Homo sapiens: one gene and its partner. The protein of the gene in region 1 purifies or fractionates together with the protein of each later gene. This does not show direct contact. Each region holds a gene or a part of one and is shown on either strand. Other genes may lie near its edges.

The links. The genes of interacting proteins can lie anywhere in the genome.
Region 2: the proteins of PCDH1 (region 1) and DBI purify together in Homo sapiens (affinity purification with mass spectrometry; one large-scale study listed by BioGRID and IntAct). This does not show direct contact.

The regions. Positions count from the first base shown.
Region 1 is NC_000005.10:141,864,666-141,869,174, reverse strand, and holds part of PCDH1 (protocadherin-1 isoform 2 precursor), read left to right. Parts: coding exon 1-606; intron 607-696; exon of another isoform or gene 697-1,705; intron 1,706-2,972; exon of another isoform or gene 2,973-3,103; intron 3,104-3,747; coding exon 3,748-4,509. UniProt on the Homo sapiens protein: May be involved in cell-cell interaction processes and in cell adhesion.
Region 2 is NC_000002.12:119,365,262-119,370,475, forward strand, and holds the start of DBI (acyl-CoA-binding protein), read left to right. Parts: upstream 1-1,715; 5' UTR 1,716-1,790; coding exon 1,791-1,799; coding exon of another isoform or gene 1,800-1,829; exon of another isoform or gene 1,830-2,075; coding exon of another isoform or gene 2,076-2,267; intron 2,268-2,297; exon of another isoform or gene 2,298-2,323; coding exon of another isoform or gene 2,324-2,383; intron 2,384-2,452; exon of another isoform or gene 2,453-2,658; coding exon of another isoform or gene 2,659-2,670; intron 2,671-2,926; coding exon 2,927-3,044; intron 3,045-5,214.

The DNA.
Region 1 (4,509 bases):
CGCGTGGATGGCAAGACAGGTGACATTTTCACCACCGAGACCTCCATCGACCGTGAGGGGCTCCGTGAATGCCAGAACCAGCTCCCTGGTGATCCCTGCATCCTGGAGTTTGAGGTATCTATCACAGACCTCGTGCAGAATGGCAGCCCCCGGCTGCTAGAGGGCCAGATAGAAGTACAAGACATCAATGACAACACACCCAACTTCGCCTCACCAGTCATCACTCTGGCCATCCCTGAGAACACCAACATCGGCTCACTCTTCCCCATCCCGCTGGCTTCAGACCGTGATGCTGGTCCCAACGGTGTGGCATCCTATGAGCTGCAGGCTGGGCCTGAGGCCCAGGAGCTATTTGGGCTGCAGGTGGCAGAGGACCAGGAGGAGAAGCAACCACAGCTCATTGTGATGGGCAACCTGGACCGTGAGCGCTGGGACTCCTATGACCTCACCATCAAGGTGCAGGATGGCGGCAGCCCCCCACGCGCCAGCAGTGCCCTGCTGCGTGTCACCGTGCTTGACACCAATGACAACGCCCCCAAGTTTGAGCGGCCCTCCTATGAGGCCGAACTATCTGAGAATAGCCCCATAGGCCACTCGGTCATCCAGGTGAGAGGCCCCCTCCGTATAACTGTCAGGGTGACCCACCACTAGAAATGGGAGCCCACCCAACCAGGTGAGAGTTCCCTTCACTTAGGGGAAAAACTGCCAGAATACTGTAGTGAGACCCCTTCTCCCCAAACTCAGCCAGGGGAGTCTTTCCCACCCCACCCCAGCAGGTGATATTACTTTCCTCTATCAGGCTACTTAGGTGACAGTGAAATAGCATATGAACAGTTTCCCGTGACCCCTAAGGCAGACTCAAGCTGGGGGAACCTCTGAGAAGTAAAACTCCCGCCCTAGTCAAGTAGATCCTTCTCTGCTAGCCAGGTGAGCTGAGTTGGAACAAAGGAATCACCGTTTATCCAGGTAGAATCTCTCCTGAGATGAGAGTATCTTCCCAACCAGGGATAGTTTCTCTTTAGCCAGATGAGGTTTTCCTGAAGCTGGAGGATATAGCCTCATTTTGCCTCTTCCTGACAAAGTCAGATGAGATCATTTTAGCCAGGTGGGACCCTCAGAGTTCTGAAAAAACATACTAGGGTGTCTGTATACATGCCTCCTCCCCTAGGCATGGGGTGCCCATAGATGTGGGGTGCTTGGTACAGTGGGGTTCAGTGGGGGGTCAATTTCCTCTGTTGAAGTTCTCAGCACCCCTCTCCATGGGAACTGCCCCAGGCGCTAGGCAGCTTGGTGGGGCTGGGGACTGGGAGGGAGCAAAGAAAGCGTCTCTGCAGACAGGTGGGTGTATCTCCCGCTGTCATCTCAGCTCTGGCCTCCTGCCAGCCCCAGCTCCTTTCCCCTTCCCCATGGGCTGAAGATGCCTCTCTCTTTGATGTGAGGGAGCTGAGGAGGCTCGGCCTGCCCTGGACACCATTACCCATCCTGGAAAACCCTTAGTCCTGGGTCCTCAAGCCAAAGTGGGAGATGGGTGGGAGTTTCAGCCTTTTTTTTTTTTTTTAGAGCCTGGTGGACTGGGACCTGGAAAAGAGACTGAGAAAGAAAAGGGAGACAGACAGTCGGGGATAGCAAATAATAATAGCCTAGGTGCCAGGCACCGTTCTAAACACATGATGTGTATTATATCATTTAATCCTTACAGTACAAGGTAAGTATTATCCCCATTTTGCAGATGAGAAACCGGGCCCAAACAGATTAGAAAACTCGCCTGATATCCTACAGCTAATGAGTTCAGAGTCCACCTTTGCCGCAGCCAAGAGTCTGGCTTCAGAGCCTAGGTGTGTAAGAGCTTTACCACCTCCCAGTGAGGTGAAGCGGGAGAGTAGGGCAGAGAGTAAGCAGAGAGGTCAGCAGGGCTGAAAAGAGAGGATGGAAGAAAACAGGCTGTGGGAAAGGGGAAGAATCAGAACTGAGCAAGGATAGAAAGGAGACAGAAGCCAAGAGTCACAGAGACAAAGAGAGGTAAGACAAGAGACAGATAAGCTGGAAGACCAATCTAGAGCCAAGGGAGACTGGGGATCCTCATCATAAAGTTGATGACAGGTAGACTGGGGTGAGGGGAGGAGAAACTGTTAGGGTTTGGCACTCAGAGATGTGAGCAGAGACCAGGGTACCTGGGGAACCATTGCCCAGGAGTCTTCACTGTAGGAAAAGCCCAGGCGGGGATAGCTGGAGTTCCCATTCCCAAGGAGGAGAGGACTGGCAGTGGCTTGAGGGCTCACTAGGTGCAGTGCCCACTACTGCATTAGCACTGATTTTTCAGAGGCAGGCGGGTAGGAGGGTAGATGGTTGGACAGACAAAAAGAAATACATGCTCTTTAGGGAGCACTTTCCCTGTGCCGGGCAATGTCAGGCATTTTTACCTGTATTATCCCATTTGATGCTCACCACAGTTCTGTGAAATAGGTTACATTATTATCCCCATTTCACACATTCATAGACTGAGGCTTAGGGAGGTTAAATAATTGGCCCAAGGTCACATAGTTACTTGGGAAGTGGTATAACTGGGATTTGAACCCAGGACTCTTCTGTTTTGTTACCCCAGAGACTCTGCCAAGTTATGCTTATTCTCCCCTCACTCCCCACAGCAGTCACATTCTGTCTGGCTGTGACCTAACTCCAGCCCTCATGTTTCTCCCTGCCCAGTAGTACCCCATGGCCATTCCCACCTGGGTCCTCTTCCCCATTACCAACCATGTTTGTATAGAGTTGAGTCGAGTGCGCGTTGGAGTTGGCGTGGGAGGGTGTGCCCGCTGACTGCAGAGGGACAGACAGTTCATTGTTTGATGCTGGGAGCCCAGCCCACTGCCAGCAGGCTCTGTGGCCTGCATCAACCCCTCCCTCCTGGCTGCAGGCTCAGGCCGGATTCCTCGCATTGGTGCCTCGCCAGCCGGTGCCAGTCGGGAGGAGAAGTTGCTGCTGAAACAGGTTTCCCCGGTTTGACAGAGCGGTGGCTGGGGCCCGGCCTGGAGGGCTTCTCTGACCCACAACCCTACCTGACTTCTTTCAAAAGAAATCCCCCAACCTGGGGCCTTCAGATGGGCATGTGAGTCTTTACTCATGTGTGCAAACACACATATGCACAAACACATATACCTTCTCACACAAAAATCACACATAATCACACATTCTGACACAATCATACACATACAAACACATATACCTTCTCACACAAACATATCACATTTAATCACACATTCTGACACAATCATACACATACATATGTGCATGCGTGCGTGCATGTAGTGCACATTCACACGGGCACACACACCGCCTCTACTACTCGCACCTCTCCATCTCTTCAGGAGGGTTCAGGCAGGGTTCATTGGTGAAATGGCTTCCCTAGTTCTATTGGATCCTCATCCTCTCCTGGTATTTTTGTGGACCCATACAGCAATGACAAGTGAGGTTTAATTCTGCCCTGTCCCATCTCCAATAGTTGCCTGTAGCACTGTTGAGGATTTGCAGGCTGCATCTGGGCTCTTCAGGAAAATAGGTTAGTAATGCCTGCCAGAATGTCCGAATTGGGAAAAGGCAGGACACACATGGCTTCTGGAAAGGGAGCGATGTTGGATTGGCTGTGTCTGCCATGCTTGTTGGAAAGGACATTGGCAGCATGTGTGCCCCTTTATTTGCTATCCCTGATCTAAACCATCTCTGTTCTCCTTGTTTTTCTCTCCTGCCCTATAGGTGAAGGCCAATGACTCAGACCAAGGTGCCAATGCAGAAATCGAATACACATTCCACCAGGCGCCCGAAGTTGTGAGGCGTCTTCTTCGACTGGACAGGAACACTGGACTTATCACTGTTCAGGGCCCGGTGGACCGTGAGGACCTAAGCACCCTGCGCTTCTCAGTGCTTGCTAAGGACCGAGGCACCAACCCCAAGAGTGCCCGTGCCCAGGTGGTTGTGACCGTGAAGGACATGAATGACAATGCCCCCACCATTGAGATCCGGGGCATAGGGCTAGTGACTCATCAAGATGGGATGGCTAACATCTCAGAGGATGTGGCAGAGGAGACAGCTGTGGCCCTGGTGCAGGTGTCTGACCGAGATGAGGGAGAGAATGCAGCTGTCACCTGTGTGGTGGCAGGTGATGTGCCCTTCCAGCTGCGCCAGGCCAGTGAGACAGGCAGTGACAGCAAGAAGAAGTATTTCCTGCAGACTACCACCCCGCTAGACTACGAGAAGGTCAAAGACTACACCATTGAGATTGTGGCTGTGGACTCTGGCAACCCCCCACTCTCCAGCACTAACTCCCTCAAGGTGCAGGTGGTGGACGTCAATGACAACGCACCTGTCTTCACTCAGAGTGTCACTGAGGTCGCCTTCCCGGAAAACAACAAGCCTGGTGAAGTGATTGCTGAGATCACTGCCAGTGATGCTGACTCTGGCTCTAATGCTGAGCTGGTTTACTCTCTGGAGCCTGAGCCGGCTGCTAAGGGCCTCTTC
Region 2 (5,214 bases), on another chromosome or scaffold:
AGGAAGCTGTAAGCACCAAGTAGAGCAAAAACAAATCCAGGCCTCAAATGGAAAAAGCAGCTCTGAATTGTGATTTTCGAAGAAACCTGCATTTCTTACACTTCAGTGTACTTTCCCCATATTTAACTCCAAGATTTTTGTTAATTTGTTTGGTTTTCCTTTCTCAAACAAAATTATGCTCAGACTGAAAACCCTAGATTTGTTCCCTATTGCATCTTCATTTCTTCCCAAACATTCCATAAAACGTGACCTACATTAAGTTAGCAAGTTAAGTCTGAAAGCGTCTACCTTCCCTGGGGAGGGGGAAGGTGTAGGCAGGGCAGAGATTTGTAGTCCAGCCCTCTTGCCACAAATTATGAATTAGAGAGGAATGACTTTGCTTTTTTAATGATCTCCAGAGAATTTTCCATCATTTCCCTCTCTTCACCCAGCTCCTTTGCAACCACTGCCAGAGAAGTCTTCCTTTAGCTTCTTAAACATCGATCCTAAAACACTTCCAGACACCTGTGCTGCTCCTTTCAGTTCCCATGGAGATTAGGCTGTGTAACAATCTCGCAAAGACGTTCCCCTCCGTCTCCTCATCCTCTTTTCAAACCCTTTTACGATTTCCCATCTCACTCAGCATGACAGTCAAAGTCCCTGTGATGGCCAACTTCTGCATCACCTAGCCAGTCTGCCACCGCCAAAACTCTCCAGCCTCATCTTTCTACTCTTCCCCTGGTTCCTTGCCCACGCCTTTACACTTGTTCTCTGCTTGGAATCTTCCCTCCCCTCCTTGAGGAACTTTCTCAAATGTCACCTTCCCTCAATACTCCCCCTCCTCCATTTAAAACTATAAACTTCCAACTCTCTAAGCCCCTAAAGTACTCTATATTTAACTTATTGTATAAACTACTGTCCCTACTTGTAAGTTCCAAGATTGCAGGGATTCACCCGCTTTGTTCACTGCTGTCTGCCAAGGTCTAGAACAGTGCAAGTTACCCAACAGGAGTTCAATAAACAGCCATTCATTTAACAAATATTTGCTGAGCACTTCGTCCCGTCCAAGTTTGTTAAATCAAGACAAATAAGACACCGTCCCTGCCTTTAACGCACCAGATGGAGAAATGCACCACAGACATAAATGTGCAATACAGGCCTGACACTACGGCCACAAGCAAGTCAAAGAACGTGCCAAAAGTTCAGAGGAAGAAGCCTCGGCTTCGCCTTTCGGGAGACCAGTCCAGCTTTCCACCATCACGCTGCTCATCAGGGACCATCTCCGGGGGTCTCCTCTAGACCCCAAGGGAGGAGCGGGTCCCGCCCGCCATTCCCAGGTCTCAGAGTTTACTTGTCCAGAGATGCAACTTCCGGCCTCTTCAGGCCGGGCAAGATTTAAGGAAAGAAAAGAAACATAAGGACCTCCGTTCTTCGGTCTCCGTCCCCTCCCCTTCCCCCGCGTGCCGTCCCCACAACGGGCCAGGACTGAACCCAACTCTCGACCAACTCCCGGCAGCAAAACTAAGCACCCTACTTCCGTTGTCCCCACCTGTTCCCGGCGTCCCCTTCGGCTACTCCCGGCGTTTGCGCAAGCGGTCCCACGTGGGCTCGGGCGGGGCTAGCGCCGCGGCGGGGGCTGGGCACGCCCCTAGCGCATAGCTGGCTTCTGATTGGCTTTCCGGTGCTCGCCCGAGCAGGGTTGGGGCGAGTGGACCGCGCCTCTAAAGGCGCTTGCCAGTGCAATCTGGGCGATCGCTTCCTGGTCCTCGCCTCCTCCGCTGTCTCCCTGGAGTTCTTGCAAGTCGGCCAGGATGTCTCAGGTACAGCGCGTGCACAGCCAGGCTGCGAAGGTGCAGCGGGCGGGAGGCCCGTTGGGGGCTCAGCCGGCTGCCAGAAGCTCTCGGGCTCTTTCCTTCCGTGCCCCTCACTTGCTCATGGGCCCATGCCTAGCCCTGATTCGTTGGACAGAGCCTTGTGAGCGGGATTTTCCGTTTGGGGATTTCTAAATCTGCTGCCCACCCCGCAACTGCCGGAAAGTTGCCCATGGGGTGGACTTCGCTGTGTAGCGGGAGAGGGGTGGGAGTCGAGGGTGCTTGATGGAGAGATGGGGGAAGGGGTTGCACGGATTGGAGGAGCGAGGAGACTCAGTCCCCATCCCGAAGCACAGGGCAGGACGTCGCGGCGGAGTGGGGAAGCGAGGAGTCCGTGGCCGAGAGCTTGGAGGTCAGGGGAAGTACGGGGCCGGCTGCTCAGAGTGCGGGACGAGGAGAATCGCGGCCCGGGGAGAGGTGACCCAGGGGCCCCTCCCTTCTCTCCAGTGTAGACCCTTGTCTGAGACCGAGCTATGTGGGGCGACCTCTGGCTCCTCCCGCCTGCCTCTGCCAATCCGGGCACTGGGACAGAGGTCGGTGTTGAACGCGCGGGCCCCAGGGGGAGGGAGGGGACCAACGGGCTCCGGCGCTGACACCGCGGCACTCATGCCCTGTCCCCTTTCAGCTGTTTCCAGCATACTGTGCCCCGTCTGTCCTCAGGCCAGGGCTTCGCTGCAGCCCCGGCCACTCCCTAGTGCCTGGCCCGGTGGTGGCCAGGCAGTTGGCCGCGCTGCTTCTCCCGCAGAGGGGACCCCCACTGGGGGCGAAGGCTTGGCCTGCCCTCTTCACTGCTGTATTTCCAGACCTGATGCCTGCGTTTGTGAGAGCTCTGGATATATGGTTTTCGATTGAATGAGTGAACTGGAGGGGCTTCCCCTTCTTGTGTTGCTGAATCTTTCTAGCTGCCCTGTTGGGGCAGGGAGGGGCAGACACACTTCAGGGGCTGCATTGCCCGAAGGGTGCCACCTTTCCCACCTCTCCATCCCCGTAACTGGGCTGTCATCAGGCCACAGTAGGATTCTTACCCTCTCCCACCCAGAGGAGGCCCTCAATCCTCTCCTCTCCCTTCCATTTAGGCTGAGTTTGAGAAAGCTGCAGAGGAGGTTAGGCACCTTAAGACCAAGCCATCGGATGAGGAGATGCTGTTCATCTATGGCCACTACAAACAAGCAACTGTGGGCGACATAAATACAGGTATGCAGAGCGGGGGTTGGAAGGGCATCTGCTCATCAAAGCAGGCTCAGCAGCTCAGACTGGAAGTCCCTGGGAACTTCACTCTCAAACTGCCTGAGGCCCTACTCTTCAGGTGGGGTATGGTGATGGTTCCTGAGGTGGAAAAGACCATGTTCCGGATTCTCAGTGTCTCCAGTAGTAACAGAATTCAAATCCTGGTTTTAGAAGGTCTTTACTGGTTATCACCAGCAGCTACTCTCTACTAGGGAAGAAGCAAAGGCTGCAGCTTGGAAAAGACTTGCTGAAGGCTCTCAGCTCAGTAGTATCATTGTTGAGCCGTTCAGCTTCTGCCCTAGATGGGCAGGATCAAAGTTGGAGCACTTTTTGGAGCACTTGACAGCCTGGCCAAGCCTGATGTCAGGAGCAGAGAAGCACCTGGTTTCTTGGGCTAGGTCAGAGCATTTCGCTAACAAGTCTGTGCCTTCCTGATGATAACTTTTTCCCTGCCCAGAAATCTTGGTGCAGATTTTGAGGCTGTGCTTTGGACTGTCATGTTCTGTAATAACATCTTTCCTGCCTTGGGCAGGTTTCATTCTGTCCCTAAGTCCCTGAAACATGGGTGGATACTGAGGCAACAGCGCAGTGCATTCTGTGCAAGGACTCAGGGTTATCATGGCAGCACAGAAGGGAGGTCTCCCCTGCCCCTGCTGAGGAAGAAGGCGAGCATGGTCCCTATTTCCGCAGTAGCTGGGGTGGAAGATGGAGCAGGTGGGCTGGCTGCCAACCAGCTGGAAGCAGGAAATAGTACCCAGAATGACAGATCACAGGCAGTACCATATCAAACCCTGGGGTTCACATGGAGCACTTAGTTGAAGAAGGTCTTATGGCGAAGGTGAGTTTTACAGTGAGTTCGTAAACTCTGTCCTTCCAGGGAGGGGAAGGAAAGGTGAAGTGGGGGAGGCCAGAGGTGCCAAGATGCTTTTCTGACAAACAGTATTTTCACAGAGACTGGCCTGTGCCCGTACTAGAGTTACCGATTTTCACATGAGTCTAGATAGACTGGCATAGGAATCTATCACTTACTGATCAAAGAGGTGTCATCGGCTCTCTCTAGGGCTGTACTATACAGCCCTATTACACGATTATAAAACATGATAGTCCAAACACGATAGTTTAGTATAATAGCCAGTAGCCACATATGACTATATAAATTTTAACTGAGGCTGGGCGCTATGGCTCATGCCTGTAATCCCAGCACTTTGGGAGGCCGAAGCAAGCGAATCATGAGGTCAGGAGTTTGAGACCAACCTGGCTAACGTAGTGAAACCCCATCTCTACTAAAAATACAAAAATTAGCTGGGCATGGTGGCATATGCCTGTAGTCCCAGCTACTTGGGAGGCTGAGGCAGGAGAATCGCTTGAACCTGGGAGGTAGAGGTTGTGGTGAGCCGAGGTCGCACCACTGCACTCCAGCCTGGGCAACAGAACGAGACTCTGTCTCTAAAAAAAAAAATTTTAACTGAAAATAGTTAAATAAAATCAAGTTTAGTCTTCATTCACAGGAACCACATTTCAGATGCCCAGTAGTCATTTCAGGTACTTGGTGTGGCAAGTGGCTCCTGAATTGGACATTGCAAATATACATGTACATTTCCATTTCCACCGCTTGGAGAGAGCTGTCGAGGAGTGCTATTCTAGGATCCTGATGATGACCACAAGGGCAGTTTGTTTCAGCTGTCCCTGGGAACACTTCCCTGAAAGCGCTCAGGGACATTTTCTCAGGCACAGTGCTCCAGGCTACGGACTCTGATTGTTCCCTGTGGCTTTGGGGCTGGGCATCGTAGTGAAATAGGACAACAGGGAGATGGTGAGTGTGTTTCCCAACTGCAGATGACAACAGGTCTATAAGCATAAAGTCATCATATAACTTAAAGAAACCTTACCCTCGGTGAAATCTCCCACAGATCAGCAAGAAATAGACTAACAATTCGGTAGAAAAATGGGGCTAGGATATAAACAGTTCATAGGAAAGGACACCTGATATCATTAATGATTAGGGAGAGAAATTGGGTAGCTAACAGCAGGGGTGAGAGAGAAACTTTATAGTATTTTCCTCTGTAGCTTTTGAATTTTAAGACATATGAATGGATTTTTTTTTTAATTGTAATTAAAGTATAATTTTTTTAAAAGA